Homo sapiens: one gene and its partner. The protein of the gene in region 1 purifies or fractionates together with the protein of each later gene. This does not show direct contact. Each region holds a gene or a part of one and is shown in the gene's direction. Other genes may lie near its edges.

What was found.
Region 2: the proteins of SPATA4 (region 1) and FAT3 purify together in Homo sapiens (affinity purification with mass spectrometry; one large-scale study listed by BioGRID and IntAct). This does not show direct contact.

What each region holds. Positions count from the first base shown.
Region 1 is NC_000004.12:176,185,478-176,189,306, reverse strand, and holds part of SPATA4 (spermatogenesis-associated protein 4), read left to right. Parts: intron 1-1,071; coding exon 1,072-1,188; intron 1,189-3,829. UniProt on the Homo sapiens protein: May play a role in apoptosis regulation.
Region 2 is NC_000011.10:92,798,240-92,802,068, forward strand, and holds part of FAT3 (protocadherin Fat 3 isoform 1 precursor), read left to right. Parts: coding exon 1-3,670; intron 3,671-3,829.

The sequences.
Region 1 (3,829 bases):
AGTCTAAAATTAATCTTTACTCTCTTCCTGAAACTGCAAGGACCTTAGAACACTATGACACTGATCCCTCGCTGCCACCCCTTCACCTCCTTTCAGTTCGTTGTCTAGCATTTCAGTTCTGTCCAGTTATATTTTAACACCACAAATCAGGCATCATTGACTTTTCTGTTTAAAAGTCTATCTTTGTAGAAAACTAACCTGTATCTCTGTTGTCTTTTGAACACATTTTTTCTTTAACTACAGATCATCTAAACCCTTCCAATTCTTGAGCAGTGCTCTTTTTCCAGTCTTGATTCCTGAGACTGCTGATTTTAAACATTTCTCATTTGTGGCCAAAGTAATTAATTGTGATAACTATAGTTCTGGCAGTGTTACTGGCCAGAGTTGTGTTTAGTGTTGACAGAGCATGACTGGTGAGTAGGAATTAACTTAGCAACTTCTTCAAGCCTCAGTGAAGGATGAGTTGCAGAGGAGGAAGTGATCTTTAGAAGCACAAGGAAATTGCTCAAGTATTTCAGTTTACAGGATTAGTTAAAAAGAAATATGGGAAACATGGAAATAATTTTAATTCACAAATATGTGCAAAATGAAAGATACTGTATGATTTTATCAAATATAAAAATACATAAAACTAACCTATAATGATAGAAGTCAGGATAGCATTTTCCTTTTAGAATACTGTCTTGGAAAGACATGAGGGGGCTTTGGGGTACTGGTAACACATCATTTCTTGATCTGGATGATGGTACCCTAAGTGTATTCACTCACACATTCATTGGAGTGAATTATACTTACTGTTTGTTTACCTTTTTGTATATACATTATAATTGAATAAAAACTTACCAAAGACTAACAGGAACATAAATATATTACCTTTAAAGTAACTATTTTGTGTATTAAATATATTGTGAGCAATGTGGGGAGGGACTATTAACCTAGGTATTCACACTACTCAGGAATATGATAAACAGAAATTTAAATAATTTACTTAATTTTTAAATTATGGCATCTTATTTTGACAATGGCCATTATGGCTTTTTAAGAAATAACTTTTGTGTTCATATTTTATAGAATGGTTTGATGTGAAACCAACAGTGGGAGAAGTTACTCTCAATCACCTTCCTGCCCAAGCCTCTGGGCGCAGATATAATTTAAAAGTTAAAAGAGGAAGAGTTGTCCCTGTTTTACGTAAGTTTTAACTCTTTGCTTCTTAAAATTGATTTTTTTTTGCTTGACTTTCTTCAATTAAAGTTTTAAAAAACGGTTAAATAGTTAAAATGTTGGTATAGGTCAACATTCAGTCCTACACTGCCAATTACACTGGTATGCAGTTCTTTATGATAAGTGAAGGGAACATGTGGTCTGCTAAGTCGCTGCCCCCTCCCCAGCCTGCTACAATCAGATCCACTGAGTTCTGATTTATGCTTAAATAGGTGAGTTGGAAACACGTCAGGCTCATTAGAGTTCAAAGCTCAGTTCTTCAGTAGTCAGAGGATGAGTCAGTCAGTCCTGAGACAGATATAGATACTTGCATACTAAGAATTCTCAATCAGTTGTATTACAAGAAGTCACTTGATTAAACCCTGTTAATTCAGAAAGCATTTATACTACAGGAAACTGTAGCCCATGGTCCAAATTCAGCCTGTTGCCTGTTTTTGTATAGTTCACAAGTTAAAAATAGTTTTTACTTTTTTTCTTTTTTGGAGACGGAGTCTCACTCTGTCACCCAGGCTGGAGTGCAGTGGTGTGATCTCGGCTCACTGCAACTTCCACCTCCTGGGTTCAAGCGATTCTCCTGACTCAGCCTCCTGAGTAGCTGGGACTACAACGCACGGTGCCACGCCTGGCTAATTTTTTGTATTTTAGTAGAGATGGGGTTTCACCGTGTTGCCCAGGCTGGTCCTGAACTCCTGAGCTCAGGCAGTCCACCCTCCTCGGCCTCCCAAACTGCTAGGATTTCATGGTTAAAAAAAAAATCAAAAGAAAAATAGTAATTCCTGACACATAAAAATGCTATGAAATTCAAGTTCCCGTGCTCATAAATAACAGGGAACAGAGCCACTCCTGCTCATTTTATGCCTTGCTTACGGCTGCTTTGACCCTTCAACAGTTGGGTTGAGTAGTTGCCAAGGTGACTGTCTAGTCTAGAAAGTTGAGTTGCCAGATTTAGCAAATAAAAACACAGGGCAATGCAACAAATACCTCTGAGGACATATTTAGGACACACTTTTACTAAAAATTATTCATTATTTATCTGAAATTCAAATTTAACTAGGTGTCCTATATTTTATCTGGCAACCCTACCACAAAGCCTAAAATATGTACTCTCCAGCCCTTTACAGAAAATGTGTGTGGACTTCTGCTACAGATTATGTTTCCTGACGTGTTGAGGGATTTCGCCGGGGATAAAAGTTATTTGTTTACATAGAGTCTTTGAGAGCAGTGCCAATGTTCCTTTTTTTAAAAAAACAAAAAAAAACCATGATTTCTCAGAACCTTTAATATGCTAATATGCATTGTAAATATTAAAGGGGAGAGAAGCAGAATGAAGTGTTTTCCAAACTCTATTTGATCACACATCACTATTTGGTTTTGCTTTGTTTGGTGGCCTTGTAGAACTAGTGTTCCTCATAGCACACTTTTTAATGTCCAAACATCAGGCCAGCCCATCAAAATCCCTTTAACTCTTCAACCACCTGAGGCATAGTAAACATAATAGAATCCAACGGAAGTGGATAACAATGTTTCCATGAATAAAATGCATCCATAGTTTCACCTTTAGATTCTAGGAATATATCCTCTCCTTCAGCCTGCCTCAACCTTCTTCTGTTGGTGACATTTGTGGTGAAAGTTCCAGCAGGGAGGGAGGTGAAGCCACAGTGGTAGGGTGAGCATAGGAGGAGGGGATCAGGAGGTATGGAAAGGAAACTGCAGGTAAGTTTTGTTTTTGTGTTTAACTTGCTTGCCTCGTTCCCCTTATGATTAACTGAATTTCACTGGGAAAGGGAAAGAGCAGGGTCACCTGCTTTGGACATGCAGTGAAAAGGTAGAAAAGAGTAGTAATGAGTCACAGCACGGCTTCCTTCCAGTATAAGAAAGAGATGCAAATAGGCCAGAGACAAAAACTGATGCCTGCTGATATTTGAATTGCTAAAGAGTATTTCTCATTTTTGTTATCTTTTTTGAAAATCTTCAAGGTTCACATATGAGTTTTTAGAAAAACTACATGCTATCATTACTTCAGATCAGGATTCCAAGTAAAATGAATTTTTGCTTTTACAATTTTAATAATGTATAAGTGGCCATAAATAACTCCTCCCATTTTATTCTCTACTGCTCTTTTTTATGATTCTCTGGTTGCTCTTTTATGATTCACTTTCATCTCAATAGTCTTGCTCTCTTTGGAAAAAGAGATGGGTTTATGGAAGCCTTCATTGGACAAGGTAGATCAGGATGGGAAGGTGAACATACATTTATTTTTTTTACTTGTCTCAATCCTGTTCCAGATAATATACTTGGATTCTCTTAATCTAGGCACATAGTAAATTAATGAATGATGTGGATTCAGCTTTGGTAATTATATGGATGAGAACTATTAAGTGTTAAATAATTTTTTCTAAATTTGTTCAAAGGACTTCATTTCAGTTTCTGATAAGAGAGTAGAGTAAATAGTTCAGGTCTGCTACCATAGTTTGATAGTTAATGGAAGGAGGAGAAGCAAAAACACTAGACTGTAGGAACGTAACTCTGTTTTACCATCTAAGATTTCATATAATGGCACTGAAATCACAGGCTGTTCACCTGAAAATCTTCTAATTATCAAACAGGG
Region 2 (3,829 bases), on another chromosome or scaffold:
GCCACCAATATGGCAGGAATGGCTTCCAATGCTACAGTCAATATTCAGATTGTTGATGAAAATGATAATGCCCCAGTTTTTCTCTTTTCTCAATACTCAGGCAGCCTAAGTGAGGCTGCCCCAATTAATAGCATTGTCAGGAGCTTGGATAACAGCCCACTGGTGATTCGAGCCACAGATGCTGACAGCAACCGGAATGCTCTGCTTGTGTATCAGATTGTGGAGTCAACAGCAAAAAAGTTTTTCACGGTGGACTCCAGTACAGGTGCAATCAGAACAATTGCCAACCTGGACCATGAAACCATTGCCCATTTCCATTTTCATGTGCATGTGAGAGACAGTGGTAGCCCCCAACTGACTGCAGAGAGTCCCGTTGAAGTCAACATTGAGGTGACAGATGTGAATGATAACCCACCTGTTTTTACTCAGGCTGTGTTTGAGACTATCTTACTTCTACCTACCTATGTTGGAGTGGAGGTTCTGAAAGTTAGTGCCACAGATCCTGACTCTGAGGTACCCCCTGAACTGACATACAGCCTAATGGAAGGCAGTTTGGATCATTTTTTAATTGACTCAAACAGTGGAGTACTTACCATAAAAAACAACAACCTCTCCAAGGATCACTACATGCTGATAGTTAAGGTGTCTGATGGAAAGTTCTACAGTACCTCCATGGTCACCATCATGGTTAAAGAAGCCATGGACAGCGGCCTCCACTTTACACAAAGCTTCTATTCCACCTCAATCTCAGAGAACAACACTAACATAACCAAAGTTGCTATTGTCAATGCAGTTGGAAATCGCCTTAATGAGCCCTTAAAATACAGCATCTTAAACCCAGGAAATAAGTTCAAGATAAAATCTACCTCAGGGGTCATTCAGACGACTGGAGTCCCCTTTGACCGTGAAGAACAAGAGTTATATGAGCTGGTGGTAGAAGCCAGCCGTGAGCTGGACCATCTGCGTGTGGCCAGAGTGGTGGTCAGGGTTAACATTGAAGACATAAATGACAATTCTCCAGTCTTTGTGGGCCTCCCATACTATGCTGCTGTTCAAGTGGATGCGGAACCCGGGACTCTGATTTATCAGGTGACAGCCATTGACAAAGATAAAGGTCCAAATGGAGAAGTGACCTATGTCCTGCAGGATGACTATGGCCACTTTGAAATTAACCCTAATTCAGGGAATGTTATTTTAAAGGAAGCATTCAACTCTGACTTGTCCAACATTGAGTATGGAGTCACCATCCTAGCCAAGGATGGCGGAAAACCTTCTTTGTCTACATCTGTGGAGCTTCCCATCACTATTGTCAACAAAGCAATGCCTGTGTTTGATAAGCCCTTTTATACAGCATCTGTCAATGAAGACATCAGAATGAACACACCCATCCTAAGCATCAATGCCACCAGTCCAGAAGGCCAAGGCATCATATATATCATTATCGATGGGGACCCTTTTAAACAGTTTAACATTGACTTTGACACTGGGGTCCTGAAAGTTGTTAGCCCTTTGGATTATGAAGTTACATCTGCTTACAAGCTGACAATAAGAGCCAGCGACGCCCTTACTGGTGCTAGGGCTGAAGTCACTGTTGACTTGCTAGTTAATGATGTAAATGACAACCCCCCTATTTTCGATCAGCCTACATACAATACAACACTATCAGAAGCATCTCTTATTGGGACACCTGTTTTACAAGTTGTCTCTATTGATGCAGACTCAGAAAACAATAAAATGGTACATTATCAGATTGTCCAGGATACCTACAATAGCACAGATTATTTTCACATAGATAGCTCAAGTGGCTTAATCCTGACAGCACGAATGCTGGACCATGAGTTAGTACAACACTGCACTTTGAAAGTCAGATCAATAGATAGTGGCTTCCCATCACTGAGCAGTGAGGTTCTCGTTCATATCTACATCTCTGATGTAAATGACAACCCTCCAGTTTTTAATCAGCTCATTTATGAGTCATATGTGAGTGAATTAGCCCCCCGGGGCCATTTTGTAACCTGTGTACAAGCCTCTGATGCAGACAGCTCTGATTTTGACCGGTTGGAATATAGCATTTTATCTGGGAATGACCGGACGAGCTTTCTGATGGACAGCAAGAGTGGAGTTATCACATTGTCCAACCATCGGAAGCAGCGGATGGAGCCTCTGTACAGTCTCAATGTGTCTGTCTCTGATGGGTTGTTCACCAGCACTGCACAGGTGCATATTAGGGTACTTGGGGCTAACTTGTACAGCCCTGCCTTTTCACAAAGCACATACGTAGCTGAGGTGAGAGAGAACGTGGCTGCAGGAACAAAGGTAATTCATGTTCGAGCCACAGATGGTGATCCAGGGACTTATGGGCAGATCAGCTATGCCATCATCAATGACTTTGCCAAGGATCGATTCCTCATAGACAGCAATGGGCAGGTCATCACCACAGAAAGGCTAGACCGGGAAAACCCTCTAGAAGGGGATGTTAGTATTTTTGTGAGGGCCCTTGATGGTGGAGGGAGAACAACTTTCTGCACTGTGAGAGTGATTGTTGTGGATGAAAATGACAATGCTCCCCAGTTCATGACAGTGGAATATAGAGCCAGTGTCAGGGCAGATGTTGGAAGGGGCCACTTGGTCACTCAAGTTCAAGCCATAGATCCCGATGATGGAGCAAATTCAAGGATTACTTATTCCCTCTATAGCGAGGCCTCTGTTTCAGTGGCCGACCTCCTGGAAATCGATCCTGACAATGGCTGGATGGTCACAAAGGGTAATTTTAACCAGCTGAAAAATACAGTGCTTTCGTTCTTTGTCAAAGCAGTAGATGGGGGCATCCCAGTAAAGCACTCCCTCATTCCTGTCTATATCCACGTCTTGCCCCCTGAAACGTTCTTGCCATCATTCACCCAGTCTCAGTATTCCTTTACCATTGCAGAAGATACAGCCATTGGGAGTACAGTGGACACCCTGAGGATTTTGCCCAGTCAGAATGTCTGGTTCAGCACAGTTAATGGGGAACGGCCAGAAAATAACAAAGGGGGCATATTCGTCATAGAACAGGAAACAGGCACTATTAAGCTTGACAAACGCCTTGACCGTGAAACCAGCCCAGCTTTCCACTTTAAAGTAGCAGCCACTATACCCCTGGACAAAGTAGACATTGTGTTTACTGTGGATGTAGATATCAAGGTATTGGATTTGAATGACAACAAGCCAGTCTTTGAAACTTCAAGCTATGACACCATTATAATGGAAGGGATGCCTGTTGGCACCAAACTCACACAAGTGAGAGCTATTGATATGGACTGGGGAGCCAATGGACAAGTCACTTACTCCCTCCACTCGGATTCCCAGCCCGAAAAGGTAATGGAAGCATTCAATATTGACAGCAACACGGGCTGGATCAGTACCTTGAAGGACCTAGATCACGAGACAGACCCCACATTCACCTTCTCTGTGGTGGCCTCTGACCTTGGAGAGGCATTCTCTCTTTCCTCCACGGCCTTGGTCTCTGTCAGAGTGACAGATATAAATGACAATGCACCAGTCTTCGCGCAGGAAGTGTACCGAGGGAATGTGAAGGAGAGCGACCCACCGGGCGAGGTGGTAGCCGTCCTCAGCACCTGGGACAGAGACACATCCGACGTTAATCGCCAAGTGAGCTACCATATTACAGGTGAGTAAATACCCCCAGTTTTCATTATGTGCACTGCTTTATAAAGAAAGATGGAAGATGGCGGGGAGAAGAGTAAGAGAGAAGGAAGATGGGATAAGGAGTCCAGTGTAATGAAGCCTCTCTGGAGCTGAGTAAAGGATCTCTGAGCAGACTGCGTTT